Linked DNA regions of Homo sapiens. The protein of the gene in region 1 interacts with the protein of each later gene in a pairwise test. Each region holds a gene or a part of one and is shown in the gene's direction. Other genes may lie near its edges.

Region 1 (4,232 bases):
GCCCTGCAGATGGGAAGTGGCGTTGCCCAGGAAGTGGTCTGGAGAAGCGGGGAGAAGACAGCCTATGGGCCCCAGGCCTCGGGAGCCAGGGAGGGTGTCACTCTTCATGTCTCAGGCAGTGGCTTGTTGCTATCATAGCCCCGGGCTGGAGGTGGGAAGGCCTTATGGTGACCACAAGTCACAGTTCCGTGTGGGCCCTCAACGTGGCCTCACTTCACCTCTGGGGCTCAGCACCAGCGTGTGACTGACTGCTCGAGGCAGCGTCTCGCAGCTCAGGTGGGTGAGGTGGTGGTAGCGTCCTCCTTGGTAATATCACTGTGATGAGGAGCAAGGCTTCTCTAACATTGTCTGGACTCAGGAGGAGCAGTTGGTTTGTTCTCATGTAGATTCTGCCTCCTGTATGCTGCTGGGACCCTGAGGGTCAGCCCAAGAGTCCTGTTTTGCAATAGCCCTTCTGTTTGCTTCTCTTTGCGGTATGTTTATTTTTAGAATTCTTTGTCTTTCCCCACTCCCCCCAAAAAAGAATTATTTAATTTGGTCACTTCCATCAAATGCTCTGATTTTAGCTTAGTTAGAAGGCATGCTGAAAACTGTAATGATGATGTGAACAGAAAGACAACTGTGTGTTGGGAGGGCCAAAGAGGGAAGTGCCTTTGTTCAGAGATGGGAGGGTTTGTCTCCACTTTGAAAGGGTTTGAGTGGTTTTAGCAAACGTTCCCTGCCACGTGGGGTCCTCACCAAAGTTCTCTGTCTCTGTCTTGCCCAGGTGGACACCTGCGCAGGTGTGTGCCCTCCGGCCCCTGAAGCATGGCCAGCAGCGGCATGGCTGACAGCGCCAACCACCTGCCCTTCTTTTTCGGCAACATCACCCGGGAGGAGGCAGAAGATTACCTGGTCCAGGGGGGCATGAGTGATGGGCTTTATTTGCTGCGCCAGAGCCGCAACTACCTGGGTGGCTTCGCCCTGTCCGTGGCCCACGGGAGGAAGGCACACCACTACACCATCGAGCGGGAGCTGAATGGCACCTACGCCATCGCCGGTGGCAGGACCCATGCCAGCCCCGCCGACCTCTGCCACTACCACTCCCAGGAGTCTGATGGCCTGGTCTGCCTCCTCAAGAAGCCCTTCAACCGGCCCCAAGGGGTGCAGCCCAAGACTGGGCCCTTTGAGGATTTGAAGGAAAACCTCATCAGGGAATATGTGAAGCAGACATGGAACCTGCAGGTGGGCCACAGCTGGTCCTGCTCCCTGGGCCCAGGGGGCCCTGTGACCCCACACAGACTTCCTGGCTACATGCAACACATGTGCCTATGTGCCCTGTGTGCCCAAATAACACAACCATCTCCTTAAGCATCAATTTTGGCCAAAAAATGCCTCTCTCTGATAAGAGCCTTTCCTCTTTCACAGCCACAGCTGAGAGGGTGGGTCCCTTTGTGCCAGCAGTGTGGGTTTCTCCACAGCAGGGAACCACTGTTACCCAGTGCAAGGAGGGCCTTTTCAGAGAGGCATTGATAGGTGTTGATTGGTTTCTGTTTATCTGACAAGGTCCTACCATACACACTGATAGGCACTTGATTTTATGGCTTCCTAATATCTCTTGCAGAACTTTCTGTGTCAACACTCATATAGTTGCATCACCCGTTCTTTGGCTATCTGGTATCACCTGCTATGCACCACAATTTATTTAACTAGTACCTATTGATGGACACATTTGCTGTTTATGAATAAACGCTGCTAACAACATTGCTCTAGACCTATCGTATACTACACTTGTATGCAACGTCTGCAGGATAAACTTTGAAAGGGTTGGGATTGCCACAGCAAAGGATATGTGTGTTTATTTTTTTATTTTTTATTTTTTTGAGACAGAGTCTTGCTCTGTCACCCAGGCTGGAGTGCAGTGGCATGATCTCAGCTCAATGCAACCTCTGGCTCCAAGGTTCAAGCGATTCTACTGCCTCAGCCTCCCAAGTAGCTGGGATTACAGGCATGTGCCACCACACCTGGCTAATTTTTGTATTTTTAGTAGAGATGGGGTTTCACCATGCTGGCCAGGCTGGTCTCGAACTCCTGACCTCAAGTGAACCATCCTCCTTGGCCTCCCAAAATACTGGGATTATAAGCGTGAGCCACCGTGCCCGGCCATGTTATTTTTATTTATACACTTGAAAGTACTTAAGTAATGTGTAAAGGTCTTTCTGGTTTTATTTACTGAATGAATGAGTGAATAAGTTTTGATCCTGTTTTACCATGCCAGGACTCGAGATAGATTGGAAATGCCTTCTGCATCATTTTCATTTTTCCTCGGTATGGTTTACTCTGCTTTGCTCTCCATGTGGCAGGGTCAGGCTCTGGAGCAGGCCATCATCAGTCAGAAGCCTCAGCTGGAGAAGCTGATCGCTACCACAGCCCATGAAAAAATGCCTTGGTTCCATGGAAAAATCTCTCGGGAAGAATCTGAGCAAATTGTCCTGATAGGATCAAAGACAAATGGAAAGTTCCTGTGAGTATCGTGCCTTCCCCCTCACCTCCTGCCACCAGGCCTGTGTGGACAATTGGGAATAATTCAGCTTCCTTGTGACTGGCCCCACATGACCCTGGGAAGAGGCCATGCATTGCCATTTGACAACATGCATGCTGGCCTGTTCTAAAGACATTTCTAACCAAAGCTATCACTTGTGACCCAGTGTTTATTTTGCCCAGTCTAACTCTAAAATGAACACTCTTTTTGGGCACCGAGGGATGTAATATTTAAAGAAAATGTGATTCAGCCCCATATTCTCCTTTTAATGGCAAATTATAGGTTGCATAGCACATTCTGTGGTTATCCAACTAAAATTAAAATACTGCAGTTTTTTTACTCAAACTACCCCCTTGATCTCAGACTTTACTTCTATTTTACATGAAACAAGATGCCAACAGGAAAGATGTTAAGGAAAAGTTCCTGGGAGTAGCATCCATGAGTGGTGAGTGCAGGTTTGAAGACTTCAGCCTTAGGCCCACAGTCATTAGAGGGTCTGTCTGAATCCTGGGTTCTGTTTGCTATCCTCAGTGGTTCAGTGTAAATCTAAATTGTAGAAGGTTCTGAGATACAGGCCAACGTGGTCAGTCAGTTGTCCAGAGAAGGTAAAGAACTGTCTTTGGGAGGTGTCAACCTTGTTCCCTCGAGGGGGTCTGGTCAAGGTGGCTCAGTGGGGCAGTTGTCCCTGGGGGAAATGATCCCCTGGTCACCTCTCAGTGTCCCTACAGAGATGCTTACCTTGGAAACATAACCAGAAACAGCGATGCAGCCTCATGGTTTGGCAATTGGTGAATCCCCAGCCGACTTCGTAAACTTTTCCTAGATTTAGAAGCGTTTTCTCTGCCTGTCCATCTATTCAAAGGAATTTCCTCAGACTTCACTGTCATACCTTGTATTTTAAAAATGATCTTAGCTGAGTGCAGTGGCACGCACCTGTAGTCCCAGCTACTCCTGGCAGGAGGATCGCTTCATCCTCACTATGATCTCACTATCGTTTGAGGCTAGTTTGAGACCAGCCTGGGCAACATAGTGAGGCCCTGTCTCAAAAAAAGAAAAAAAGAAAAGAAAAATTGACCACAATACTCTTAAAAAAAAAAAAAAAAAAGGAAGAAGGAAGAGTGGCCCAGGTTGCCACGCGGCAGTGCCTAGAGTGATGGTCTTTAGTGGGATGCAGCCCCAGCCAGCAGCAGAATGCTGTGGGGAGGGAAGACATTGCCCCTCAGTGGAGGCACCTATGGCTATTTTTGCTGAGGTTTGGCTTCTTACCATCTCAGCAATAATTTCCAACATGAATGTCATGGGACCATGCACATAGCATCTTGGCATGTGAAGTCAACCCAAAATAGCATAATCCACACGATGAGGCTGGCCAACTTCTGCTGGTTAAGAAGCCTGCTCATAGCCTCTTTGGCCACGAAGCTGTTTCTTTTTTCGGAGTTGTCTATTCCCGAAAACAGCAGTTGCATCCTTCATGGCCATGACTTTTGCTCTCTCCTTCCTTTCTGGGAGATGTATATAAACCCCATGCAGAAGGCTGGGAGGTGCAGCTCTTGTTTGATGAACATGCCTTGTTCCCTATCTGCCCTGTACAGACTGACATCTCATGTGTCCTCACAGCACATGTCCCTGACACTGAGGCTTATGGTTTATGCAAGAGAGTCTCAAACTTGCCGTGCTTCCTATTCAGCTGGTGTCAGAGCTAACCAGGCAT
Region 2 (4,232 bases), on another chromosome or scaffold:
TGTATTTAAAGATGAAGCTTCACTATCTGGAGAAATCACTTACTGAATGATATGATTTCTTGAGGGCCCTGCATAAATAACATCATATTTTATATTCTTTTGCTTTACTTCTGCATTACTTTTTAAAGCTTACTGCTTGAGAGGGAAGTATCCATAGAGGGATAATTTTACTAAGAGATGATATTTATTTATTTTGCAGTAAGTAGATGCATATTCAATGAATGGATTTTTATAGTCCAGAAAACAGTGCTAAAATCATGTGAATCCAACACTTTATGACTTTTCAATATTATCTAAAACATCTATAGGACTCTACCCTGCCTTCCCTGGACACAAATTATATACTTATTCCTTTGAGCTGCGTGAAGAATGAGAAGTTAATTTAAAATGTTGATGATTAAAGACCTATATAATGTTTTTAGGCCTTTGTGATCTCTGGTCATCCTCTTGTTAAAGGATTGCCTAAATTTTTCTGTAGAGGAATGCTTGTTCATGTAGCAATACCTCTGCAGACATTTTGCCTGGGTTGCTGTAGTCTCAAGTATTTTCATGTATGTTAAATATTTTTTTCCACAATTAGTCAATTCTTTGAAGGTAGGAATAATGAATTATATACTTGTTTTTCTTCCCACAAGTAGCAAAGGGAATGTTTTATTCCACTGGGGGTTTTCGAGTCCTTCCACTTCCCAGAGCATCCCCACCACCCCGCTGCCCTTTTTTTTTTTTTTTTTTTTTTTTGAGGAGGAGTCTTCTTCTGTCCAGGCTGGAGCGCAGTGATCTCAGCTCACTGCAACTGCCAACTCCGGGTTCAAGCGATTCTCCTGCCTCAGCCTCCTAAGTAGCTGGGATTACAGGAACCTGCCACCACACCCAGCTAATTTTTGTATTTTTTAGTAGAGACGGGGTTTCACCATGTTGGCCAGGCTGGTCTCGAACTCCTGACCTCAGGTGATCTGCCCACCTCGGCCTCCCAATGTGCTGGGATTACAGGCATGAGCCACTGCACCCAGGCCCAGAGTGTCCTCTTGAGGTAGTCTTACCTAGAATGTTGAATCTGGAGCAGAGAATGTTTCTTAGTAAATGACTGAGACTTGCTAAAATAGGCCTCTTTTCTGTCTAGCTGCCTCCCTGAGGAAGAATTTCAAAGAGGAGTAAGGTGTAAGTTTGTTTCCAGGCACACATGTTGGGGTTAAAGGCTGATAAGGAAGGCTGTTTGTCATTTGGTTCTGCTTTTATTATTTGGTGACCATAGATTTAGGGAGGGTGATAGTAAAATAATTTTTTAGGCTTCTCTAGGTATAGTATTAAACTCAAAATTTACCAGAACTTGTGGAGGGGGTATGTGGTGAGTGTATTACAGATTGCCCATGTATGTTTGTTGGGAAGAGGAGGGGAAATATTAGAAAGAGTTAAATCCCATACTCAAGAATACAGGTCTTACTCGTATAGTCTTTGAACAACAGGCTGTGTGGCTAAAAGAGAGACACAATCAATTGCTTCCCAGTCAAGAAGCCAGAAAAGCTTCAAAACCTTTCCCCCTCCCTACTCCTTGCCACCGCACCTAAAAAAAAGAGAAATCTTTTAAGTGTTTAAAATCTGTAGGAGTCTTATGAAGAAGCAGCTTTATGTGTATTCTTTATGGCATAATATTAATGCATGAAAATCTGTTGCTTTTTTAAAAATTGTGGCAAAATATACATAACATAAAATTTATCATTTTAGCTATTTTTAATATACAATTCACTAGCATTAAGTATTAATACATTCACAGCACCATTGCAACCATGGCCACCATCATCTCCAGAACTTGATCTTCTTCAACTCAAACTCTAGGCCCATTAAATACTGTAATAACTCTCCATTTCCCACCCCTCCCCCTCCGCAGGGCCTGACAAATACCATTCTGCTTTCTGTCTGTATGAATTTGACTACTTGAACTACCTCATATAAGTGGAATCATACAATATTTGTCTTTTTATGACTGGCTTATTTCACTTAGCATAATGTCCAGCTTCATTCTTTTGCGTATGGATTTCTAGTTTTCCTAACACCATTTGTTGAAACCATGACTTTTTCATATTTAGTAAAAACTGAATCCTCCTTGATGTATTGCCTCAATATTATATAGTAGGAGATTTAATCGAACATACTGAATATATATATACATTATTAAGTTAATTGAGTTATGAGTAAACGTTGCTTTTCAGAGTGGCAGATTATCCTGTGGTAAAAACACACACACAAACACACACATATTGTGACTTTCTCTAAACAATGCATTTGTAAAATCAGTTTGATAAATGTGCATCTTCTTGAAAACATTATCTCAAGTTAATACTGAATGGATATTTTTGTTTTGTTTCTAGGCATGGAAGAGGAGATGGTTCGTGTTACGCAGTGGCCGTTTAACTGGAGATCCAGATGTTTTGGAATATTACAAAAATGATCATGCCAAGAAGCCTATTCGTATTATTGATTTAAATTTATGTCAACAAGTAGATGCTGGATTGACATTTAACAAAAAAGAGTTTGAAAACAGCTACATTTTTGATATCAACACTATTGACCGGATTTTCTACTTGGTAGCAGACAGCGAGGAGGAGATGAATAAGTGGGTTCGTTGTATTTGTGACATCTGTGGGTTTAATCCAACAGAAGAAGGTAAGTTCAAGATATTACTATTCAACTTGAATTCTTCTTTTCTGCTACATTTCCAGAAATGTCATACAATTCTTTGTTATTTTAGTTACACAATATAATGTTTTATTTTTATAATAGGAACTTGACATTTGGAAAAAGCACTGAATCCTTTAATTAGTTTGGGGAGAAGCTGTTTACCAGTTTTAGAGCGACAGACTTAGACATATTGGGGCAGTTTTTAAATATCCTGAAGTAAAAGGTGACAAGAAGACATTTTAAGAACATTTATTGAATTCCAATATAAATATTCAGTTTAACCATATAACACTGTTGATATTTTACTATTTTTCACCTATTAAAAAATAGCACATTTGGCCGGGCGCGGTGGCTCATGCCTGCAATCCCAGCACTCTGGGAGGCCGAGGCGGGTGGATCACGAGGTCAGGAGATCAAGACCATCCTGGCTAACACAGTGAAACCCTGTCTCTACTAAAAATACAAAAAAAAATTAGCCGGGCTTGGTGGCAGGCACCTGTGGTCCCAGCTACTCCAGAGGCTGAGGCAGGAGAATGGTGTGAACCCGAGAGGTGGAGCTTACAGTGAGCCGAGATCGCGCCACTGCACTCCAGCCTTGGCGACAGAGCGAGACTCCGTCTCAAAAAAAAAGCACTTTTATGTAGCTCAACCCAATTCTTTAGGTGCTATTTAAAAATATATTTTAAAACTATATTAGATTATGGCCGGGCACAGTGGCTCACACCTATAATCCCTGCACTTTGGGAGACTGAGGCAGATGGGTCACTTGAGGTAAGGAGTTCTTCAAGACCAGCCTGGCCAACATGGTGAAATTCCATCTCTACTAAAAATACAAAAATTATCCAGGCATGGTGGCACACGCCTGTAGTTCCAGCTACCCAGGAGGCTGAGGCAGGAGAATCGCTTGAACCCAGGAGGCGGAGGCTACAGTGAGCCACAATTGCACCATTCCACTCCAGCCTGGGCGACAGAGCAAGATGCCGTCTCAAAAAACTATATTAGATTATCCCATTTATGCCTAGTGTTCCATTATTGGAACGCTAAGCATGTGGGAGTTATTTATATCCCACTGCTCAAGGTCATCGCCAAGGTCTGATTGCAAACATTCAAAAAATTGCAACCTCAAGCATAAATAGGTTATGAAGTTAGGAAATAGCCAAGGTAATTATCATTACCTATGAAATGCAAGTGAGAATCAGTCACAAAACACAATGAACAAGTACCAAACAAATGAATTACTTAGCACAGGTCCTACAAGGAACATGGAAGAAGAAAGAGGGGCTCAAGGTTTGGGTAAGAGGTAGTGAAGGAAAGCTTCTGAAAGGAAAATAAATTGCAAAATGTAGGCTTTTGAAAGAAACAGTATTTCTGTGTAAATGAAAGGAGGGACGCAGAACCCTCCAGGCTTAGGGACTTAGGAAAGAACAGACCCAGAGAAGGAATCGAATTTTACTTGACTGGGGCAGTAAGGCTCTGAGTGAAAAAGGCCCAGGGACAGTTGCTTACAAATCTTGAATGAGGGACTGAGATTTGGGGTGCCTATCCTGGAAAGAGCT
Region 3 (4,232 bases), on another chromosome or scaffold:
CATACTTAAAGAGCAATGAGAAATGCTTCAGAAAAGGGAGAGCACTTTTTAATATATTCTGAATGTATTAGGATGCAGTTATCATATCTTGTAAGGTTGAAAATTCAGGCCGGGCGTGGTGGCTCATGTCTGTAATCCCAGCACTTTGGGAGGCCGAGGTGGGCAGATCACGAGGTCAGGAGATCGAGACCATCCTGGCTAACACGGTGAAACCCTGTCTCCACTAAAAATAGGAAAAATTAGCTAGGCATGGTGGCAGGTGCCTGTAGTACCAGCTACTCGGGAGGCTGAGGCAGGAGAATGGCGTGAACCTGGGTGGCGGAGCTTGCAGTGAGCCAAGATTGCTCCACTGCACTCCAGCCTGGATGACAGAACGAGACTCTGTCTCAATAAAAAAAAAGAAAGAAAGAAAGAAAATTCAACCCCAGTGAGACAACAGAACTATTCATTGATCAGAATACTCAGAAAAGCAGTATTATATAGGGATAGGAGGGTAGGCAGGCAGTATACTGCCACCAGTAAATATATTTGTGAGTTCTACTAAAGAGGAAAGGAGACCCCTTTTGGAGTTTTTTTGTTCTGTTTTGTTTTTGTTTTTTAGTTTTCTCATGTTTTATCCTAATGGGTTTTGAAAGCATGATCATTTAAAATACTGTTGGAATGGGCCCATCAGTGATGTGATCTTTCACCTGTGAAAAGACAAGGGCTACTTTTGTGGCTGTATCTCCCCTATCCAGACAGGTAGGAGACCCAGCCTCTGTGGCTTTATGCCGGACGCTCATTTCCTGCCCACAGAGTTTCTCTGCCCTTCAGGATAACTCAGAGTTTGCCAGCCATTGTTGGGTCTATCCAAGGGTGTGTAGTTCACAACTGCTTCCTTCCTTTTTCCCTAGAAGGGTAAAGGTTACCCCATAAGCTAAGGGGAAAATGCCCAGCCCAGAGAGAAAAGCTAAGCAGAGCGAGCCTCTTGGATCCTGAGGGTCTAGCAGAGGGCTTATAATATCTCTTCCTATTGCCAGTGCCCCAGTTGCGCAGCTCTCTGCGTCTTTTCTCAAATCATCACCCAATCCGTTTGCCTTTTATAGAAAGTGATGGTAATGATGTGTGTAGAGTGACAGACTTCAGTTTTTACATAGAAAGACGGGATGTAGGCAGTGGGATCAGGCCAACATCAGCCTTGGGCAGCGTTTTCAGTGGGGAAGCCTCCTCATTAGAAGAGCCGGCAGCAGCTGTGTGACTGCCTCAGGCTGAAGAGAGTCCTGGGAGGGTTGGATGTCTTGTTCTCTCCTACTGGATTTCTACCATAATAATAATAAACAGATTTATTTTTCTAGTAGTTCTCATTTGACTAGACATGGATGAGGTAAATTTTCAGGAAAGGCACAACAGTGTAATGGATTTTTATGGGTAAAATGGCTATCATAAAAGCTTTAAGCTAAAACTTTAAAGGGGTTTGATAACGAGGGTACATTAAGACTTTGGTTTGCAATTATTTACTTAGGAAGGATGGAAATGTTTGCAAGTTTGAATTTGGCTAAAAGCCCTTCTTAATTGTAAAAGAATCACTTTTAGATGTTCACAAGCTGAGCTTTAGCAAATACCTTTACTGGTTCTTGAGTTGCCTCTATCTTAGTTTTCCCACCATTGTACTTTACAGCACAATTTACAATATGTCCCCACCCCCAAAAGAGCATTTCCTTTCTCAATTGTCACAAAGCTGCTGAGAAGAAGCTTATTTTTAACTTGGAAATGTGTTTTGTTTTAATAGTTTTAGCCTGAGAGCAATTATCTTACACACTTTATAGGTGCCTAATGCGGTCTTAAATCATGACTGACCAAGGTTTATCAATAAATCCATTGATAACATACCAGAAATGAGTCTGCAATAACAAAATGAGTCTGTTATTTGCTTAACATCAACCATCAGGGGGAAAAATTTAATCCTAAAAATGAGATATAAAACAATACCAATGAAGATAATTAGGAAAAATTGTTACAATACTGATTTTGGGCCCTCTCTGGTTCCGTTTTTATCTATTTCTAAAAGAAACAACATAACACATGTATTAAATATTACATAATTTTTAAAAGGCTGAGTGTGTCAACTAACCAGCCTGGTATACATCAAATAGTGACCATATTTAAAGAACAAGGAAAAATCTTCAGTCATTAATAAATGTGAACTAATAGGTAAAAAGAAGTAGATTCACTTTTCATTTGTTAGTGCCTGGTGCATAGGAGGTGCTTTATTAAGAAATAATTAATGAAACCTGGGCAGCATAACAAGACCCCGTCTCTACAGAAATTTAAAAATTAGCTGGGTGAGGTGGCGCACACCTGTAGTCCTGTCTACTAGAGAGGCTGAGGCGGGAGGATTGCTTGAGCCCAGGAGTTTGAGGCTGCAGTGAGCTAGGACTATGCCACTGCACTGCAGACTGGGCAAGAGTGAGACCCCCATCTCTAAAAGTAAATAAGTAAATAATGAATGAATGAATGAATGAATGAATTATTGGCAGATATGTGTTCCAAAACCATCTATATGTTTCATATTATGCTAGCTGCTGAATGCAACTGGGCAAACACTGGATACCAAATGAGGTATTTTTACTGTGCAACTTTTGTCTCTGGGTGGGGAATACCATAGCAACCAGAATGTAGTGCACGCAGCCAGTGCACAGAGCAAGGCGTATAATGGCTGGACCTTGGCTTATAGAGCACATGAAGGAGTTTGATAAGAGCTCAGTCCGAAGGCTGATGAAGAGTTACAATCAGAGTTATGAGCAAGTAAAAGTCTGGGCCCAACGTGTTTCTACTCCTACCCTAAAGAGCCCTAGAAGATGAATTCACTTCAGAATGGCCCAAAAAGGGCCAGGTCCAATGGCTCATGCTTGTAATCCTAGCACTTTGGGAGGCCAAGGCAGGAGGATCACTTGAGCCCAGGAGTTTGAGACCAGCTGGGCAACGTAGTGAGACCCTGTCTCTAGAAAAAAAAAAAATAGCCAAGCATGGTGGCCCACGCCTGTGATCCCAGCTACTCAGGAGGCTAATGTGGGAGGATTGCTTGAGCTCAAGAGGTTGAGGCTGCAGTGAGCCATGATCACGCCACTGCACTCCAGCCTGAACAACAGAGCCAGACTCTGTCTGAAAAAGAAAAGAAAAGAAAGAAGGAAGAAAGGAAGGGAGGGAAAGAAAAAGAAAGAAAGAGAGAGAGAGAGAAAGAGAGAAAGAAAGAAAGAAAGAAAGAAAGAAAGAAAGAAAGAAAGAAAGAAAGAAAGAAAGAGAAAGAAAGAGAAGGAAGGAAGCAGAGAAAGGAAAGAAAGAAAGAAAGAAAGAAAGAAAGAAAGAAAGAAAGAAAGAAAGAAAGAAAGAAAAGAAAGAAAGAACGGAAGGACTCGAAAAGCCCCTTTATTCCTACCAAGCTGCATCTGCTCTTTGTCCCATCTTTGGATCTCCTGAAAACAACTTGTTTCATTAACATGTCATGTAGTTTTAATGTTTGTTCCAGATGCTCTGAAATTTGTGACCCTTTTCCCTTTAGTGAAAATTAAATTTTTACTAAATTGTGGGAAAATGAAAGAATTTCAGACTATTTAAGGATATACATTTTGTTTGTTCGTTTTCCATATATGTGAAAAATTATAATATATTGGGTTTTTTTAAAAGTTCTATGTTGTCCTTGTAGGTTTTCCCAAATAGTGCACCCCTTGAAGGAGGGACAAGGCTGACCATATGTGGCTGGGACTTTGGATTTCGGAGGAATAATAAATTTGATTTAAAGAAAACTAGAGTTCTCCTTGGAAATGAGAGCTGCACCTTGACTTTAAGTGAGAGCACGATGAATACGTAAGGATCTTAAAATGCTTTGCTGGGGTGTGCTTGGAAAATAGGTTTTGTTTTTGAATGAATATTTCTTTTAAAATTGCTCAAGAAGCTCATCTCTTGAATTAAAAAGGGTCTTGGCCTGTCACATGCCTTGTGGGTCTGTTCTGTTTTGTTCTTGTAATCCCATTTACTCATTGGATTTGAAGAGAGAGAAAGGTGACATGGCCTAGGTGAAGAGAAGAGGCCAGAAATGGGAGTTTCTCAACCATTTATGCGACAAGTCTTCAGGTGTTGTCTGAGTAGATTTGCAAGAGTAGCACTAGTTGGGATCACTTCATCCTTGGAGTCTTCAAATGTAGAGTCTCCAAAGGCTTTTTCTACAGAAATCAGTAAACAGCTCAGCATGGATC
Region 4 (4,232 bases), on another chromosome or scaffold:
ACCCTGTCTCTAAAGAAAAAAAGAGGCCGGGTGTGGTGGCTTACACCTGTAATCCCAGCACTTTGGGAGGCCAAGGCGGGAGGATCACTTGAGGTCAGGAGTTCAAGACCAGCCTGGCCAACATGGCGAAACCCTGTCTCTACTAGAAATACAGAAAAATTAGCTGGGTGTGGTGGTGGGCACCTGTAATCCCAGCTACTCGGGAGGCTGAGGCAGGAGGATCACTTGAACTGGGGAGGTAGAGGTTACAGCGAGCCAAGATCGCGCCACTGCACTCCAGCCTGGGTGACAGAGGGAAACTCCATCTCAAAAAAACAACAACACAACAACAACAACAATAACAACAAAAAAACAAAGCAGGACTGGAGAGAGGTGGAATGAAGTGGCAAGGGGTTCCTGAGGGGTGATTTGGGACAGGACATCTAAAGCCAGGTGTACGCTCACGTCCTCAGTCCCCCAGGCTCCTGCACGGGCTCTGTTCTTTTGCAGAAAGGCCTTTTCCACCTCATATCCAGCTCCCTCCAGAAATTCAAGAGTCCCAGGAAGTCACTCTGACCTGCTTGCTGAATTTCTCCTGCTATGGGTATCCGATCCAATTGCAGTGGCTCCTAGAGGGGGTTCCAATGAGGCAGGCTGCTGTCACCTCGACCTCCTTGACCATCAAGTCTGTCTTCACCCGGAGCGAGCTCAAGTTCTCCCCACAGTGGAGTCACCATGGGAAGATTGTGACCTGCCAGCTTCAGGATGCAGATGGGAAGTTCCTCTCCAATGACACGGTGCAGCTGAACGTGAAGCGTGAGTCTCCCCGGCATGCCTGTGGGAAGGGCAAGGTCTGTGTCACCTTCTCCCCAGCCCCGCAGGGGGCATGCACCCAGGGCAGGGGGAAGCCTGCACAGACGGCGGCATCCTCCAGCCCTGGTCACGCCGCCTTGTCAGCCCTGGTGTTTCGGGAAAAAGATTTGCTCTAGCCTAACAGAATAAAATGGTCCATCCTCAAGCCATGACATGAATTGGGGATTATCTGGTTAGGTCTTTTTGTTCCCCTCTTGGTGGGGATTTTTTTCGCATCATTATCTTGTGCCTCATTCATTCAATAAATACGTATCATGAACCTACTAGGTACCAGGCCTTATTACGGCTGCCAATGGGGGGCATGGGGCGGTGGGCAGGGTGCAGCAGTGAGCAAAACTCTTGCCCCACGCGGAGCCAGCGCTGCAGTGAAAGAGACAGACAACAAATGGATTACCAAAGAAATACAGAGCATGAGCCAAGACATTAGAATCTGGAACAAAGCAATGTTAACAAAGAAATATACAACACTATTGTAGGTAGTGATATGTGTGTTAGGAAAAAAATAAGGCCGAGAGAGGGGAGTGATGGAGAGAGACCTCTCTAAGAAGGTGAGCACTTAGGCCGGGTGCGGTGGCTCACGCCTGTAATCCTAGCACTTTGGAAGGCCGAGGCGGGGGGATCACAAGGTCAGGAGATCGAGACCATCCTGGCTAACATGGTGAAACCCCATCTCTAGTAAAAATACAAAAAATTAGCCAGGCATGATGGCAGGCGCCTGTAGTCCCAGCTACTTGGGAGGCCAAGGCAGGAGAATGACATGAACCCAGGAGGCGGAGCTTGCAGTGAGCTGAGATCGCACCACTGCACTCCAACCTGGGTGACGAGTGAGACTCCATCTCAAAAAAAGAAAAAAAAAGAAGGTGAGCACTTAAGCTGACTGGAACGGAGGGAGTGGCTGAGGCCGGCACATATTTGGGAGAGGAGGATTTCAGGGAAAGAGAAGGGCAGGTTCAAAGCTTTGAGGCAGCAGCTGGGTGGGAGGACCTCAGAGGCTGAAGTTCACCGCCTCTGAGGGCCACATGGTAGGACAGGAGGCAGGAGATGGAGCAGGACTCTGGATCCCGAGGGCTGAGGTGAGGGTTTGGGATTCTATGCAAAGCACAGAACCCGCTCGTGGTTTCCAGCAGGATTGGCGAGGTCTGGTAGATGGTGTTAGGAACCCTGCGTGCTGCTGGTGGAGACCAAGAAGTAGAGGAAGTGGGAGGGGGAAGCTGAGAGCCGAGTTAGGAGGCTGTGACCATCACCTGGGTGAAGGGACTGGCAGGCCATGGCTTTGTCAGAATAAAAGCACTTTCCACACCCTCCACCCTCTGAGGATTCCCCGCCCCCTCCCCGACTGCCCCTCTGCTCCTCCAGACACCCCGAAGTTGGAGATCAAGGTCACTCCCAGTGATGCCATAGTGAGGGAGGGGGACTCTGTGACCATGACCTGCGAGGTCAGCAGCAGCAACCCGGAGTACACGACGGTATCCTGGCTCAAGGATGGGACCTCGCTGAAGAAGCAGAATACATTCACGCTAAACCTGCGCGAAGTGACCAAGGACCAGAGTGGGAAGTACTGCTGTCAGGTCTCCAATGACGTGGGCCCGGGAAGGTCGGAAGAAGTGTTCCTGCAAGTGCAGTGTGAGCCCCTCGGAGCTGGGGACAGGCCAGGCAGGGAGGTAGCAGGGGTGGACCCGGAGAGGGGAGCCACGGGGGCTCTCGGGGCCGTGTGCACAGGTTGGGGGTGCTCTCCTCACCCCTCCACTCGCCTCTGCCCCCTCTTCCAGATGCCCCGGAACCTTCCACGGTTCAGATCCTCCACTCACCGGCTGTGGAGGGAAGTCAAGTCGAGTTTCTTTGCATGTCACTGGCCAATCCTCTTCCAACAAATTACACGTGGTACCACAATGGGAAAGAAATGCAGGGAAGGACAGAGGAGAAAGTCCACATCCCAAAGATCCTCCCCTGGCACGCTGGGACTTATTCCTGTGTGGCAGAAAACATTCTTGGTACTGGACAGAGGGGCCCGGGAGCTGAGCTGGATGTCCAGTGTGAGTAGCCACGGAGCCTCTGGTTCTAGGGAGAGAAGATGGACACAGGGAACGGGGAAGGCAGATGGGGTGCAGGGCATTCCGGGGTCCTGGAGTCAAGAGCAAGGAGCAGCCAGGGTCTCCTGTTCACAACTGCTGTCTCAGCTCCTAGCATAGGGCCTGGCTCATGGAGGGTGCTTGGTAGATGCTTGTTTTTTTGTGTTTTAGTTTTTTTTGAGATGGAGTCTCCCTCTGTCTCCCAGGCTGGAGTGCAGTGGCACAATCTCGGCTCACTGCAAGCTCCACCTTCCCGGGTTCATGCCATTCTCCTGTCTCAGCCTCCTGAGTAGCTGGGATGACAGGCGCCCGCCACCACGCCCGGCTAATTATTTGTACTTTTAGTAGAGACGGGGTTTCACCGTGTTAGCCAGGATGGTCTCGATCTCCTGACCTCGTGATCCACCCGCCTCGGCCTCCCAAAGTGCTGGGATTAGAGGCGTGAGCCACCGCACCCGGCCTGTAGATGCTTGTTGAATGAATGAGGCCAGGTGCGGTGGCTCCCGCCTGCAATCCCAGCTCTTTAGGAGGCTGAGGCAGGAGGGTCTCTTGAACCCAGGAGTTTGAAACCAGCCTGGGCCACACAGCGAGATACCATCTCTACAAAAAAATACAAAAATTAGCTGAGCATGGTGGTGCGTGCCTGTGGTCCCAGCTACTGGGGAGGCTGAGGAGGGAGAATCACTTGAGCCCAGGAAGTGAAGGCTGCAGACTGAACTATGTTCCTGCTACTGCACTCTAGCCTGGGTGACAGAGCAAGACCTGGGTCTCAAAAAGAAAAAGAAAATGCTGGGACTGGGATTATAGGTGTGAGCTGGGCACAGTGGCTCACACTTGTAATCCCAGCACTTTGGGAGGCCAAGGTAGGCAGCTCACTTGAGGCCACGAGTTCAAGCCCAGCCTGGGCAACATGGTAAAACCCCATCTCTACAAAAAAAAATTAGCCTGGCATGGTCATGCATGCCTGTAGTCTCAGCTACCCAGGAGGCTGAGGTGGGAGGATCACCTGAGCCTGGAAGTAGAGGCTGCAGTGAGCCTGTGATCATGCCGCTGCACTCCAGCCTGGGTGACTGAGTGAGACCTTGTCTCAAAAAAAAGAATGGATTGGCCAGGCATGGTGGCTTACGCCTGTAATCCCAGCACTTTGGGAGGCCAAGGTGGGCAGATCACCTGAGGTCAGGAGTTCGAGACCAGCCTGGCCAACATGGCGAAACCCTGTCTCTACTAAAAATACAAAAAATTAGCCGGGCATGGTGGCAGGCACCTGAAATCCACCTACCTGGGAGGCTGAGGCAGGAGAATCGCTTGAAC
Region 5 (4,232 bases), on another chromosome or scaffold:
CCCCAGATGCAAATGTGGCCCCTGTTGCCACAACCGACTTCTGCTGTCCTTCACTCCCCAAATCCAGGGCCTGAACAACGCCGTTGCCTTGGATTTTGACTACCGAGAGCAGATGATCTACTGGACAGATGTGACCACCCAGGGCAGCATGATCCGAAGGATGCACCTTAACGGGAGCAATGTGCAGGTGAGGCGGGCGGCCCTCGGCGACCAACACTGGCCCGCCTCAGATGACTGTTTTCAGATCGTCTCTCCTTCCCGCCCCACCAACCCAAATTGCTTCCTTCTCACTCCACTAGTCACTATATGACTGCTTGTTCTAGCTGCTCACTCTCCTCTGGGCCCAGACAGCAAGGACTGGGAGATTCCTCTTGCCCTTCCCCTCGCTGCCAGCCTCATGTCTCCTTAATCATCAGGAAGTTCCCTGTGAGGTCTGGCCAAGCACTGTGAGGCTTGGGGCGTGGTCCCATTCACCTAGAGCCCCCTCTCCTAGAGCCTCTGCTGACACCTACACAGTGTCAGGCCCAGGACTGGGCATTTTACTTCCATGGTTCTCCCACCAGAGCTGTCAGAGGGAGCTCTACCCCATTTTACACGAGGGGAGGCTGAGCCTCACAGAGGCTTGCAGGTCCTCCCCCAGGTCACCCAGAGCTCTCCCTCCCCTGCCCCTTCCTGCAGGTCCTACACCGTACAGGCCTCAGCAACCCCGATGGGCTGGCTGTGGACTGGGTGGGTGGCAACCTGTACTGGTGCGACAAAGGCCGGGACACCATCGAGGTGTCCAAGCTCAATGGGGCCTATCGGACGGTGCTGGTCAGCTCTGGCCTCCGTGAGCCCAGGGCTCTGGTGGTGGATGTGCAGAATGGGTATGTGGCTGAGGAGGGTTGGGGGAGCCCCTGAAAGCAGCATCCAAGCCCAGCCTCCCTGCAGGCCACTGGTGCGATGGGTTACGGGATCTCCCAGGGCTCACTGCCTACCCATCGCCAGGTACCTGTACTGGACAGACTGGGGTGACCATTCACTGATCGGCCGCATCGGCATGGATGGGTCCAGCCGCAGCGTCATCGTGGACACCAAGATCACATGGCCCAATGGCCTGACGCTGGACTATGTCACTGAGCGCATCTACTGGGCCGACGCCCGCGAGGACTACATTGAATTTGCCAGCCTGGATGGCTCCAATCGCCACGTTGGTCAGTGTGCCAGTGAGGCTGTCCAGGCACAGCAGACTCAGTGGGGATGGAGGTCTGAAGCGACAGGGGATCAAGTTTTGGGGGCAAGAGTGGACATAAAAAGCGGAGGATATGGCCTGAGGACACCACTCACTGGGGTGTGGGGTTCAGAGCACCCCGGGGGCTTCCCCAGCCTGGCCACCACCCAGCTCCCTTGGGAAGGAAGAGGAGAGGCCCTTCCCTTGTATACACAGTTCTGGAGGACTGGCCCCAAGGAGGGTGGGGGTGGGAGGCCTGCGATTGAGAACTGCAGTGCTCCCCACTTCCCGAGGGGAGCCATACACTGGCAGGGCAGGAACTTGCCATGAGGCAGTCTAGGTTTGAACTCCAGCTCTGACACTTGTTAGCTGTGAGACCATGGGGGGTCTGTACCATGAACCATCTGTAACTGGGGCTGACACCCACCTCTCAGGGTGGTGGTAGGGCTTGAGGAGGTGGAGTGGGCCGGCACCCTGTCCGAGCTCCGGCTGACTGGCACTGTGCCTGCCCCTTGGCCCTGCAGTGCTGAGCCAGGACATCCCGCACATCTTTGCACTGACCCTGTTTGAGGACTACGTCTACTGGACCGACTGGGAAACAAAGTCCATTAACCGAGCCCACAAGACCACGGGCACCAACAAAACGCTCCTCATCAGCACGCTGCACCGGCCCATGGACCTGCATGTCTTCCATGCCCTGCGCCAGCCAGACGGTGAGCAGGCAAGGGGTGGGAGCAGGCGAACGGTGAGCCAGGCACCGGGGTCCCTGGGAGTTCCTGCTCATCCCTTCTCTAGCATTGACCAAGCCCTCCTGGCCAGACACTGGGAGACTCCAGGAGGGTCTAGACAGGGGATGGTCTGGCTCCCGGGAGCTTCAGCCCGGCCTGGATCCAGCCCTGGAGTCTGGCAGCAGCAAGTCCCTGAGGCCAGTCAAGTGGGGGTCTGGGTGCCCAGCCCCCAGAAGGAAGGCAGGCCGGCCCCTGGGAGGGAAGCACAGAGGAGGTGGGGAGCTGGCCTTCAGGCCTGGCCTGATCCTGGGACCTTAGAATCCTCTCCTATCTCCAGCTTCAGCTCCCTCCTAAAAGAGGCAGGGTTCAGACCCACCCGCCTCTGTCCAGGATAGAGTGAGTGAGGCAGCCTTTGGTAGGCCAGAAAATGTCACCATATTTCACGACGTTTTCTCTGGCAGTGCCCAATCACCCCTGCAAGGTCAACAATGGTGGCTGCAGCAACCTGTGCCTGCTGTCCCCCGGGGGAGGGCACAAATGTGCCTGCCCCACCAACTTCTACCTGGGCAGCGATGGGCGCACCTGTGTGTCCAACTGCACGGCTAGCCAGGTGAGGCTGTCCCCCAGACCCCATCACCAGTGCCCGCTCCCCAACCCCCAAATCCTCCTTGGACCCCAACACCTGCTCTGTCCTAATGTCCTCATGCATCTGGTTTTCCCACACTAACACCCCCACATTTCTTGCCTACCTCTTGTCTCCCCACAGCAATACTTTTACCCCCGTCACCTCACACAGACACCTCCACACCCTAACCTTGACCCTCCTTGCCATGCTTCAGTGCTGCCTTCCCCACCCTATCCCACGCAGCCCCATACCTGGCCTTTCCGAACTCACCATAGCCCAACCTGCCCCATAACACCCTGACCCCTGCCTCAACTTCTTTGAAACATCCAAGCCCCTCAAAAGAAAGACTTCTGAGTCCCCCAGACCCCCACCAACCCCTCTTGCCCCCACCTGCCCTCCAGTTTGTATGCAAGAACGACAAGTGCATCCCCTTCTGGTGGAAGTGTGACACCGAGGACGACTGCGGGGACCACTCAGACGAGCCCCCGGACTGCCGTGAGTGCCTGCTGGGGGTGACAGGAGGGCCCCCAGCTGTGTCGGAGGCCTGACTCCTGAGGCTTTGAATGGCCACTGGAGAGGCTGGGGCTGTGGTGCCCTGCAAGTGGACCTGGCCGTGTCCACCCCAGCCGCTCTGACTCTGAGCCTCCCTCTCTGGCAGCTGAGTTCAAGTGCCGGCCCGGACAGTTCCAGTGCTCCACAGGTATCTGCACAAACCCTGCCTTCATCTGCGATGGCGACAATGACTGCCAGGACAACAGTGACGAGGCCAACTGTGGTAAGGCGCTGCCCGCCCACCCTCCCTCCTTCCCCAGCATCTTCCCTGCCCCAGGATTTGGGGCTTTCAAGTGCAGGGAAGTTGCAGCCCACGGCAGCTTGCTCTCCAGGCTGGATTCCTATGGCTCAAGCCTGTGTCCTCCCTGCTGAGGGATGGGCACCCTCTCCCTGCCCCTGAGTCCTCCCTTCGCCACGAATCACCTCCTCCTCCCTCCACAGACATCCACGTCTGCTTGCCCAGTCAGTTCAAATGCACCAACACCAACCGCTGTATTCCCGGCATCTTCCGCTGCAATGGGCAGGACAACTGCGGAGATGGGGAGGATGAGAGGGACTGCCGTGAGTGTCAGAGGTGGTGGTGGGCCGGTGGTGGGAGATGACACGGAAGCAGGGCAGGCAGAATCTCCCCACAGCTTTGAGAGGCTCTCAAATAACTTTAGTAGATGGGCAACACAAATTATATTGGGTGTAACTTGCTTTGCTCATAAAAATCATCATGCATGATATAGAGACATAGAGATCCAGAAAACAAAAAGCACCAAAACTGGGGATAAACTGTTCCTTCCTCCGAAGAAGTTGCTGGCAGGACCAAGGCCAGGGCTTGGAAGAGAGAGAAGACAGTGATGGTGAACTGGAGTGGCAGGTGTAAGGGAGGGCCCTCATTCTCTTGCCCACCCCACAGCCGAGGTGACCTGCGCCCCCAACCAGTTCCAGTGCTCCATTACCAAACGGTGCATCCCCCGGGTCTGGGTCTGCGACCGGGACAATGACTGTGTGGATGGCAGTGATGAGCCCGCCAACTGCAGTGAGTTGCCTGGCCTGGAGCCCAGCTTCCCTCCCCAGTGTCTGCTGCTCACACCACCCCGACGTGTGACCCCCTCAGTGGCTGCTCCCT
Region 6 (3,853 bases), on another chromosome or scaffold:
GAGCAGAACAGATACCTTCATTTTGTCATAACTTTTTTAAAAATGGCAAAAAATAATAGCCACATACAGTTTGTTAGTGAGGTGAAATTCCTCATAGAACAAAGACAACAAAGAATATAAAATGTTTCTAATATGTTAAAATATATTTTATATTCTTTGTATTCTTTAGTCTGAAAGGCTTAAATCTTACATTTCTGGTGGGATTTCAGAAAAAAAAGTTTTCTTAGGTAAAGCGTCTTTTTTCCCTTAAACTAGCCCATTTGAAACTCTTCTGTTTCTGAATGAATTTCACCTAACCTGTCTACAGCTATATTCACAGACACTGTTTTTCCCTTTACAGACTGACCCTACCCTTTCTGTTACAAAATACAGAAACGTTGCCAGTGTTTTTTGGTTGGTTGGTTGGTTTGAGGTGTTTTGTTTTGAGGACTGTTCACTTTTCTTTCTTTCTCATCGCATGTAAACAAGACATTAAAGTTTAAACAAAATTTAATTTCACCTTAGTTCCTAAAGCTGACTTTATCTATTTGTCTGTGTTTCACTCAGTGTAACCTTGGGATCCCTGGAGCAGGTTTTTATTTTGTTTTCTTTTCTTTTTTCCTTGGAATGCTTGTGTCTCACGGCCAGTGTGTCTAAGGGTTAGGAGCTGCACCTTCCCGCAAGTCAAAAGGGCCAGCCGAATCCTGCCTGAGCCGGTGCTTTGCTGCTTCCTACACAGGTTTCAGACACACTGATCCTAATCTTCTCAGTCAAACTCCAAGACACACAGTGTCAACAGTTACGGCAGCCACAAGTTCATTATCTACATAGGGCGCAATTACTTGGCAGCTACCTAGACTGTGAGGTTTTTGTGGGTCCCCAAAGAACTCATATCCTGAAGAGAGAGACTAATCAAGGCGGGTCCTCTTGGCAGGGACATTGAAAGGGTGGGTTACAATTGATAGGAATTTTAATTTGTGAGGACTTAATCTGATATGCTTTTGGAACAAGATAGTGTAGATGTACTTATTGTCCATCTTCTGGGAGCATTCTTTGAAGATTCATTTGATTGTATGGTGATAGTATTGTTGAAAGGACACAGAATTTTATTACATGAATCTGCTTCTATCCTTCACCTGCCTAACTGCCCAGGGCCACTGCAGTGATTTATTCAGCCTGCATTGTGGTGAGGGAAGGGACGACTAATGTCTCAAACAGTGTGGTGTTCCCTAGTCTGCTCTCCTGCTTGCTGAAAGCTCCTTTTTGGGAAGGCAGATGCTTAGTTTTTCAGGAAGCACTCACTTAGGATGCAGTATTTTAGTTTTAAATAATACGCACTGGTTGACCTTTGAGCGGACAGAACTTTTGTTGCTAGAACCTGGTGGCACTGGTGTGGGTGATGTTAATTAAGGGCCAGGTCCTGACACCAACAAAGCCAGGAAGTTTGGAATATATAATCAAGACAAGCCAGAAGTAGCTACAGAGTGGGCCTGTACTGTCCTTCCGTCTCTCGTCTATTGAAAGTAGGGGCCCTGGATCCAGGAGGCCAGCTTATCAGGAGACAAGAGTGCATTCCTTTACCTGCCTTGGTCGGAGCACTTGAACACTTTTACAGAGCACTCCCAACCCCTACCATTCCCACCCCCAAGACAGGGTCTCACTCTGTTTAGGCTAGAGTGCAGTGGTGTGATCTTGGCTCACTGAAACCACAGGCTCAGGCCACCACACCAGCTAATTTTTTTTTTTTTTTTTTTTTTTTTTGTGAGGATGGGGTTTCGCCATGTTGCCCAGGCTGGTCTTGAACAACTGGGCTCAAGCAATCCACCTGCCTCGGCCTCCTAAAGTGCTGAAATTATAGGTGTGAGCCACTGCACCTGGCCTCCACAGTGTTTTTGAGGGTAAACGTATGCTATGCCACGTCAGGATGATCTGTCTTTGACTTCTGTCGGGTGAAAAACAGGATTGGGCATAGATGACTTCACCAAATCAATTGTGTTTTCAGGTTAAATAATGCCCTTTGTCACACCTTTTAGCATACAAAATTAGACTTACCAGTATTGTTGCCTTTAAATTTAATCCAGTCTTGCCTCAAGAGCAGCAGTTCTCAAAGTGTGATCTTTGGTTCCCTAGGGCCCTTTCAGGGAGTGTGCAGGGTCTGCCCTTGAGCAACATATCTGTGTGAGGCTGGATTTCCTTCATCTGCTTCAAGCAGAACAACATACTGCAACAGATTAAACACAGATGCAGATACAGGAATTCAGCTGTCTTCTGCAAATCTAGACATTAAAATGTAAAACAATGCCACTTTTTTAACTAAAAATATTTTTTTACATAATATAATTTTTTTCCTCAAAATATATTGTTTATATTCATTTTTCATACTTATTTTTAAATGAATTAATATTTTTAACTTTCTGTTTTAGTTTCTGATATAGTAAATAATGATAGATATTAGTCCACATAAAGAATGTTTTCGGTCCCTAATAATTTTAAGAATGTAAAGGGCAGGGCTTGAGGCCAAGAGGCTTGAGAACTGCTCACTAGGGGACCCTCTTGCTAGAAACACCTACTTCTCCGTTCTCTTGGTCCTGTGTAGTGGGAAATGGTATAGCACAGGCCTAGGTTTATGAGAACTGCTCACTAGGGGACCCTCTTGCTAGAAACACCTACTTCTCCGTTCTCTTGGTCCTGTGTAGTGGGAAATGGTATAGCACAGGCCTAGGTTTATACAAACTTTCAGAGAAAAATGGCTCCAGTGTTTACTATAAAACAAGTAGCAGATACGGTCAGATGACAGTCGTGGTGCTGATGGCCATTGCTAGTCCGGGAGCCCTTGGATGTGTGTGCCTGCCTTTCTCTTGATTCAGTACACATCGTTTGCTCTGTGTTCTGTCTGTGGCCCAGCAGCCCATTCTTGTTTTAAATATACGGACTTCAGTCTCTCACTTTAATTTTGCTCTTCTTATTAGCAATGGCTCGGGTAAAGCATTTTTTTCCCATTTAAGTTTTTTGGAGATCTGTTCCTGAAAGAACAGATTTGTTTGTTTTTGTTTTTTTAACTTTCAGTAGTTTTTGGGGAACAGGTGGGTTTTGGTTACATGGATAAGTTCTTTAGTGGTGATTTCTGGGACTTTGGTGCACCCAGCACCTAAGCAGTGTACACTGGTATGTTGTCTTTGTTTTATCCCTCCACCCCTCCCACTCTTCCATCCTGAGTGCCCAAAGTCCATTATATCATTCTTATGCCTTTGCATCCTCATAGTTTAGCTCCAACTTATATAAGTGAGAACATATGATATTTGGTTTTCCATTCCTGAGTTACTTCATTTAGAATCATGGCCTCCAGCTCCATCGAAGTTGCTACAAAATACATTATTTTTTTCCTTTTTATGGCCGAGTATAATATTCCATGATGTATAAATATCACATTTTCTTTATCCACTCGTTGGTTGATGGGCACTTAGGTTGGTTCCATGTTTTTGTAGTTGTGAATTGTGCTGCTATAAGCATGCGTGTGCATGTGTCTTTTTCATTTAGTGACCTCTTTTCCTTTGGGTAGATACCCAGTAGAGGGATTGCTGGATCGAATGGTAGATCGTTAGTTCTTTAAGGAATCTCCATACCGTTTTCCTTAGTGGTTGTACTAGTTTATATTCCCACCAGCATTGTAAAAGTGTTCCCTTTTCACCACATCCACACCAACATCTGTAATTTTTTTGCTTTTTAATTATGGCCATTCTTGCAGGAGTAAGGTGGTATCACATTGTGGTTTTAATTTGCATTTCTCTGATAATTAGTGATGTTGAGCATTTTTTCATGTTTGTTGGCTGTGTATCTTCTTTTTCAGATTGTCTATTCATGTCCTTTGCCCATT
Region 7 (4,232 bases), on another chromosome or scaffold:
GGACTTTTGGAAAAGGTAAAGCCTTATATAAAAGAAAATTATTGTTGTTTGTCTGGTTCAGTTCTGGCTATTATAATAAAGTACCAGAGACAAGGTGGCTTATTAACATCATACATTTATTTCTCACAGTTGTAGAGGATGGATGTCTGCGATCAGGGTGCCAACATAGTCAGGTTCTGATGTGAGCTTTTTTTTCAGGTTACAGGCTGCCAGCTTCTCACTGTACTTTCACATGGCCTACAGAGAGTGAGAGAGCTCTCTGGGGTTCCTTTTATCAGGACAGTATTCCCATTCATAAGGGCAGGCACCATCATCATGACCTAATCATCTCCCAAAGGCCCTACCTCCTAATATCATCACATTAGGGGTTAGGATTTCAACACATGAATTTTGGGGGGACGCAAACATTCAGTTCATAACACTCTTGTTAGACTGTCACTATTAGAAGTGGTAGTGTCAAGTTCAGCACTATCTCTGGTCTTCCTTCTCTACTGGAATAAGTGGGGTTGTATGATTTTATAATCCATAAAAGTTGTGATAGCAGGTATATTGCAGTTAGGAACTTAGAGACTTTTAAATTTCTCCCTCTCCTTTTCATGTGGTTCTCTCTACACTTTTATTCTTCTCTTACTTTGAAGTTGTATTTTTCTTTCCCTCTTTCTCCATCCACTGGTGGCATATCCTTTGCAAGTTTACATGTTACAAGTCCAGCTACACTTAGTGATTAACTGACCATCTGCGAAAGCAAAGTTAGATTCCAAGAGAGAGTGTCTGACCCTTTTTGGAGTTGGCTGTCTGAGGTAGATACCTGTGCTGTTCTAATGATCTGCGGTGAAAGGAATCAAAGCATTCAAACACAACAGTTGGAGGCTCTACCTTAGTCCACATTGGTTCATCTCTTAGCATACTTTACCTTTCTTTAGTCAGACAAAAAATTTGGAGATACTATGTAAATAGATTTTCAAGTGATGTTGTTAGTTGATAAATTAAGTTATATAAGCTAGGGATATTAGACTGCCTGTTGTGCTGTTAATGAGCCATATGACAGGTAAACAGAGGGTAAAGTTGTTGTAGACCGTAACATCCTATTCTGTCTCTGCAGCTCTTGAGATCCTGTGGTTCAAGATTGTAGTCACCCTGTAGTGCCTTTTTTGATCATATTTAGGTTTGTCTTAGCCCCAGAGTTTCAGTAAAATTTGTCCTGGGAACTTTCTGAACTGTGGCGTTGAAGTCTTAATGTGAGAGTTGCCCTGGTATATTTTTTTTTCAGAGAAATACCTTACTTAACATTGTTGTTCCACCAGTATTTTGGTCTGCCTGTGTTTTTTAGCATTTGGGGCCTGAGGGGTTTTAAAACAGCCCTGGTATGTGGAGAATGCTAATCTAGAAGCAGTTTAAAGGACAGGATCCCACAGGAGAGGGTGGTAATAGCTGTGCTCCTTTAGGTCTGTTATTTGTGTTGTAGCAGGCAGAAGCCTATATCCCCTATTTGAGTTTACTCAAGACTGAGAAGAAATACAATTCCTCTCAAAGAGATTTCATCCAGTTCTTAGCCTGTTTGAGAGCCAGTTTTGCTTAGCGCTGAAGAACGTGGGTGTAGGGCTAGATTAGCTCTGCCACTTAGTATCTTTGAAACATCTGTTCCTCAGTTTCCTCATCTGTAAAGTGGGGATAATAATAGCCCCCAGTTCTTATATTTGCTTTGAGGATTAAATAAGTTAATACATGTAAGTGAGATAAAACACTGCTTGTGACATTAGTTAAGCACTCAATGATTACAAAGAGATAATAAAAAAATTAAAATCCTTCGCTGTTGCGTCAAACTATGAGCAAATGAGTTCATTTTTGTCTCATGTATAGCATCACATTTATATTCTCTCTGTGTATATTAATATATACACACATATAATATATAATACATAATACAATATGTAATATATTAATAGTGTGTATTAATATAGAATATAATTATATATTCTATACAATATTTTTCCTGTACTTTTCCCTTAATATTATATCATGAATATGTTGTTGTTATTAGTTTTTGGAAATATAACCTTCCATGTCTGTGCAGTATTCTATTATATGGTTGTACTATGTTTATTTAACTTAACCCTTGTTTTCCAAAATTTATTTCAAAAAGTTGCTATTCAAAACAGTGTTAAAAATGAGTATTCTCCATCACAAACATCTAACATCTCTGGTTACTTTTTTTTCCTGGGGATAGTTTTCTAGAACTGAAATGATTAATAAGCTATCTTCTCAAAGGGATTTTGGTAGCTTGTTTTGGTTACTTCCATCCCATTCCTATTTAAATACGCAGAATCAAGGCTAAGCTACTGGCTGCACTTTTCTAAATACTTTTATTACCATAAGAATGTTGCATTTAGAGATTAATGAGAATTTGAGGCAGCAGAGTATAGCAGCAAGAAAATGGAATTAGAAATCAGACAGATGTCTTTAAATCTCATTTTTATCCCTTTTTGGAATGTTATTTTGGGTAACCTGTTTCAACTTTTGGAACCTCATTTCCTAATCTGTAACATAGAAATTATTTAAAAACCAAAATTTCAAGGTTGTTGGATGAGTAAATGAAATAAAGTCTGTACAATGCCCAGCCTGTCACAAGAAAAGCACTAACTGGCTATTAGTCTTATCCCAGGTTCTTCAGCATTTTACTGTGTGGCACACAGCAACATAGAAGAAGGTATCTGTACTTTGGAAAAATTTATAGTCAATTTGGGGAGCCACAGAAACATAGAACCAAGGTGACAGTGATAAAGCTGCATGTTATCCCATGCTGATTAATTCAATGTGGAGAGAGTGTGGAATAAAACAGTCGTTAGAATAGTGTGGATTTGTAAATGCACACTCAGTTTCTACAGATTCCACCCCATAGGCCCACTTCTGCCAAGACACAATCAGTCATGTGGGATTTGACAGGTAGGAGGTAGTCTGCTATAATAACCAAGTTTTAGAACAAAAGAACATTCTTGTATCTGCTCAATAAAGTCAACGGGCTGATATTTAAGACAGCTGTTTTGTGTTGGGCATGATAAAACAGATACTGCTGTAGTTGCCAATACAGGCTGAGGTAAGGCAAGTAGTTATTGCCTGTAATAAAATAGGATGTATTTAAAAGGTGCCTGACCCAGGGACCAATGATGTTCACTCCCTGATACACAATACCTTAATATTGGCAAACTTAATGACAACATTCAGTGTTAGTGCCTCTCCAGCCAGGACCATTAGCTACCAGACATTCTTGTTCAAATTGTGAGGGTTTTTGTCAGGTTTATTCTGTGAAGAATAATGTTGCAGACCTTCTGAGGGAATCATCAGCTGATTTTCTGAAACTCTGAAGAAACAAAATATCACTGATAGTCCCCAGCAAATATTTCTATTTATTAGACAGTAAACGAATTCAAATATAAGCTATTTTAATGAAGCCAAGAAACATGCAACTTTTGGATATTTGCCATCTATTTTCTTTAAATTAATCTCAAAATCTAACTCTTTGTCAGACAATGTATAAAGTGGTTAATGTGGGCTAATTCATTCAATCCTTGCAATTCTGAAAAGAGGTGATGTTATGTCCTGTTTTACAAGTGAAGAAATTGAGGTTTAGAGAGAGTATAAGTAATTTGGTTTAAGTCACGTATCTAGTAAGTGGCAAAGTTGAGTTCCTATCCATATATGTCTAATTCCTAAGCATAAGCTTATGACCATTAGCTATATTATGTTGTTCTTCCATAAATTCTTTATTGTCGGCTTGAAGAGTGGAGCTCTTTTCTGTCAATACCAGTGTGTTAGTAACTAAAAGAAATTATAAAGCTTAGGAGATGCAATTATAATAGATCATATCAACACTACTCTACCACAAAGGATATATTTCTCTGAGGATGCAAAACACAGAATGCTTTCCTGTTTTTCTGTTCCCTACTGGTGAGAGCTTTGAGTAGAGCAATTCATAGGAGTGGCATAAACTTTAACCATGTGATGTTTTATTTCCAGTATTGATTCTTATCTTTTTCTGATGCTGAGTTACCTAATGAAGATGTAGGAAATTAAGTAATGAGAAGACTATTTAGCTAGAAATCAGCAGGCAGGGTGAGATGAAAACTAAATACTGGAGAGAGGTGATAGTCTGGGCAAATGAAAAGTAAGAAAAGTTAATTGAAATGACTATGTGACATTCAAATTTACCAGTGGAATTGAGAATTGACCTCAGG

The links.
Region 2: the proteins of SYK (region 1) and GAB1 interact in binary tests that used the Homo sapiens proteins (3 or more experiments, as listed by UniProt).
Region 3: the proteins of SYK (region 1) and MET interact in binary tests that used the Homo sapiens proteins (3 or more experiments, as listed by UniProt).
Region 4: the proteins of SYK (region 1) and CD22 interact in binary tests that used the Homo sapiens proteins (3 or more experiments, as listed by UniProt).
Region 5: the proteins of SYK (region 1) and LRP1 interact in binary tests that used the Homo sapiens proteins (3 or more experiments, as listed by UniProt).
Region 6: the proteins of SYK (region 1) and BLMH interact in binary tests that used the Homo sapiens proteins (3 or more experiments, as listed by UniProt).
Region 7: the proteins of SYK (region 1) and CPNE8 interact in binary tests that used the Homo sapiens proteins (3 or more experiments, as listed by UniProt).

The regions. Positions count from the first base shown.
Region 1 is NC_000009.12:90,843,092-90,847,323, forward strand, and holds part of SYK (tyrosine-protein kinase SYK), read left to right. Parts: intron 1-766; 5' UTR 767-807; coding exon 808-1,224; intron 1,225-2,342; coding exon 2,343-2,503; intron 2,504-4,232. UniProt on the Homo sapiens protein: Non-receptor tyrosine kinase which mediates signal transduction downstream of a variety of transmembrane receptors including classical immunoreceptors like the B-cell receptor (BCR).
Region 2 is NC_000004.12:143,413,111-143,417,342, forward strand, and holds part of GAB1 (GRB2-associated-binding protein 1), read left to right. Parts: intron 1-2,366; coding exon 2,367-2,661; intron 2,662-4,232. UniProt on the Homo sapiens protein: Adapter protein that plays a role in intracellular signaling cascades triggered by activated receptor-type kinases. Plays a role in FGFR1 signaling. Probably involved in signaling by the epidermal growth factor receptor (EGFR) and the insulin receptor (INSR).
Region 3 is NC_000007.14:116,751,673-116,755,904, forward strand, and holds part of MET (hepatocyte growth factor receptor isoform b preproprotein), read left to right. Parts: intron 1-3,682; coding exon 3,683-3,843; intron 3,844-4,232. UniProt on the Homo sapiens protein: Receptor tyrosine kinase that transduces signals from the extracellular matrix into the cytoplasm by binding to hepatocyte growth factor/HGF ligand. Regulates many physiological processes including proliferation, scattering, morphogenesis and survival.
Region 4 is NC_000019.10:35,335,547-35,339,778, forward strand, and holds part of CD22 (B-cell receptor CD22 isoform 1 precursor), read left to right. Parts: intron 1-489; coding exon 490-795; intron 796-2,208; coding exon 2,209-2,475; intron 2,476-2,621; coding exon 2,622-2,885; intron 2,886-4,232. UniProt on the Homo sapiens protein: Most highly expressed siglec (sialic acid-binding immunoglobulin-like lectin) on B-cells that plays a role in various aspects of B-cell biology including differentiation, antigen presentation, and trafficking to bone marrow.
Region 5 is NC_000012.12:57,197,478-57,201,709, forward strand, and holds part of LRP1 (prolow-density lipoprotein receptor-related protein 1 preproprotein), read left to right. Parts: intron 1-67; coding exon 68-187; intron 188-678; coding exon 679-866; intron 867-987; coding exon 988-1,193; intron 1,194-1,734; coding exon 1,735-1,923; intron 1,924-2,399; coding exon 2,400-2,548; intron 2,549-2,964; coding exon 2,965-3,058; intron 3,059-3,221; coding exon 3,222-3,338; intron 3,339-3,556; coding exon 3,557-3,676; intron 3,677-4,019; coding exon 4,020-4,142; intron 4,143-4,232. UniProt on the Homo sapiens protein: Endocytic receptor involved in endocytosis and in phagocytosis of apoptotic cells. Required for early embryonic development. Involved in cellular lipid homeostasis.
Region 6 is NC_000017.11:30,250,421-30,254,273, reverse strand, and holds part of BLMH (bleomycin hydrolase), read left to right. Parts: intron 1-2,040; exon of another isoform or gene 2,041-2,200; intron 2,201-3,853. UniProt on the Homo sapiens protein: The normal physiological role of BLM hydrolase is unknown, but it catalyzes the inactivation of the antitumor drug BLM (a glycopeptide) by hydrolyzing the carboxamide bond of its B-aminoalaninamide moiety thus protecting normal and malignant cells from BLM toxicity.
Region 7 is NC_000012.12:38,895,346-38,899,577, reverse strand, and holds part of CPNE8 (copine-8), read left to right. Parts: intron 1-4,232. UniProt on the Homo sapiens protein: Probable calcium-dependent phospholipid-binding protein that may play a role in calcium-mediated intracellular processes.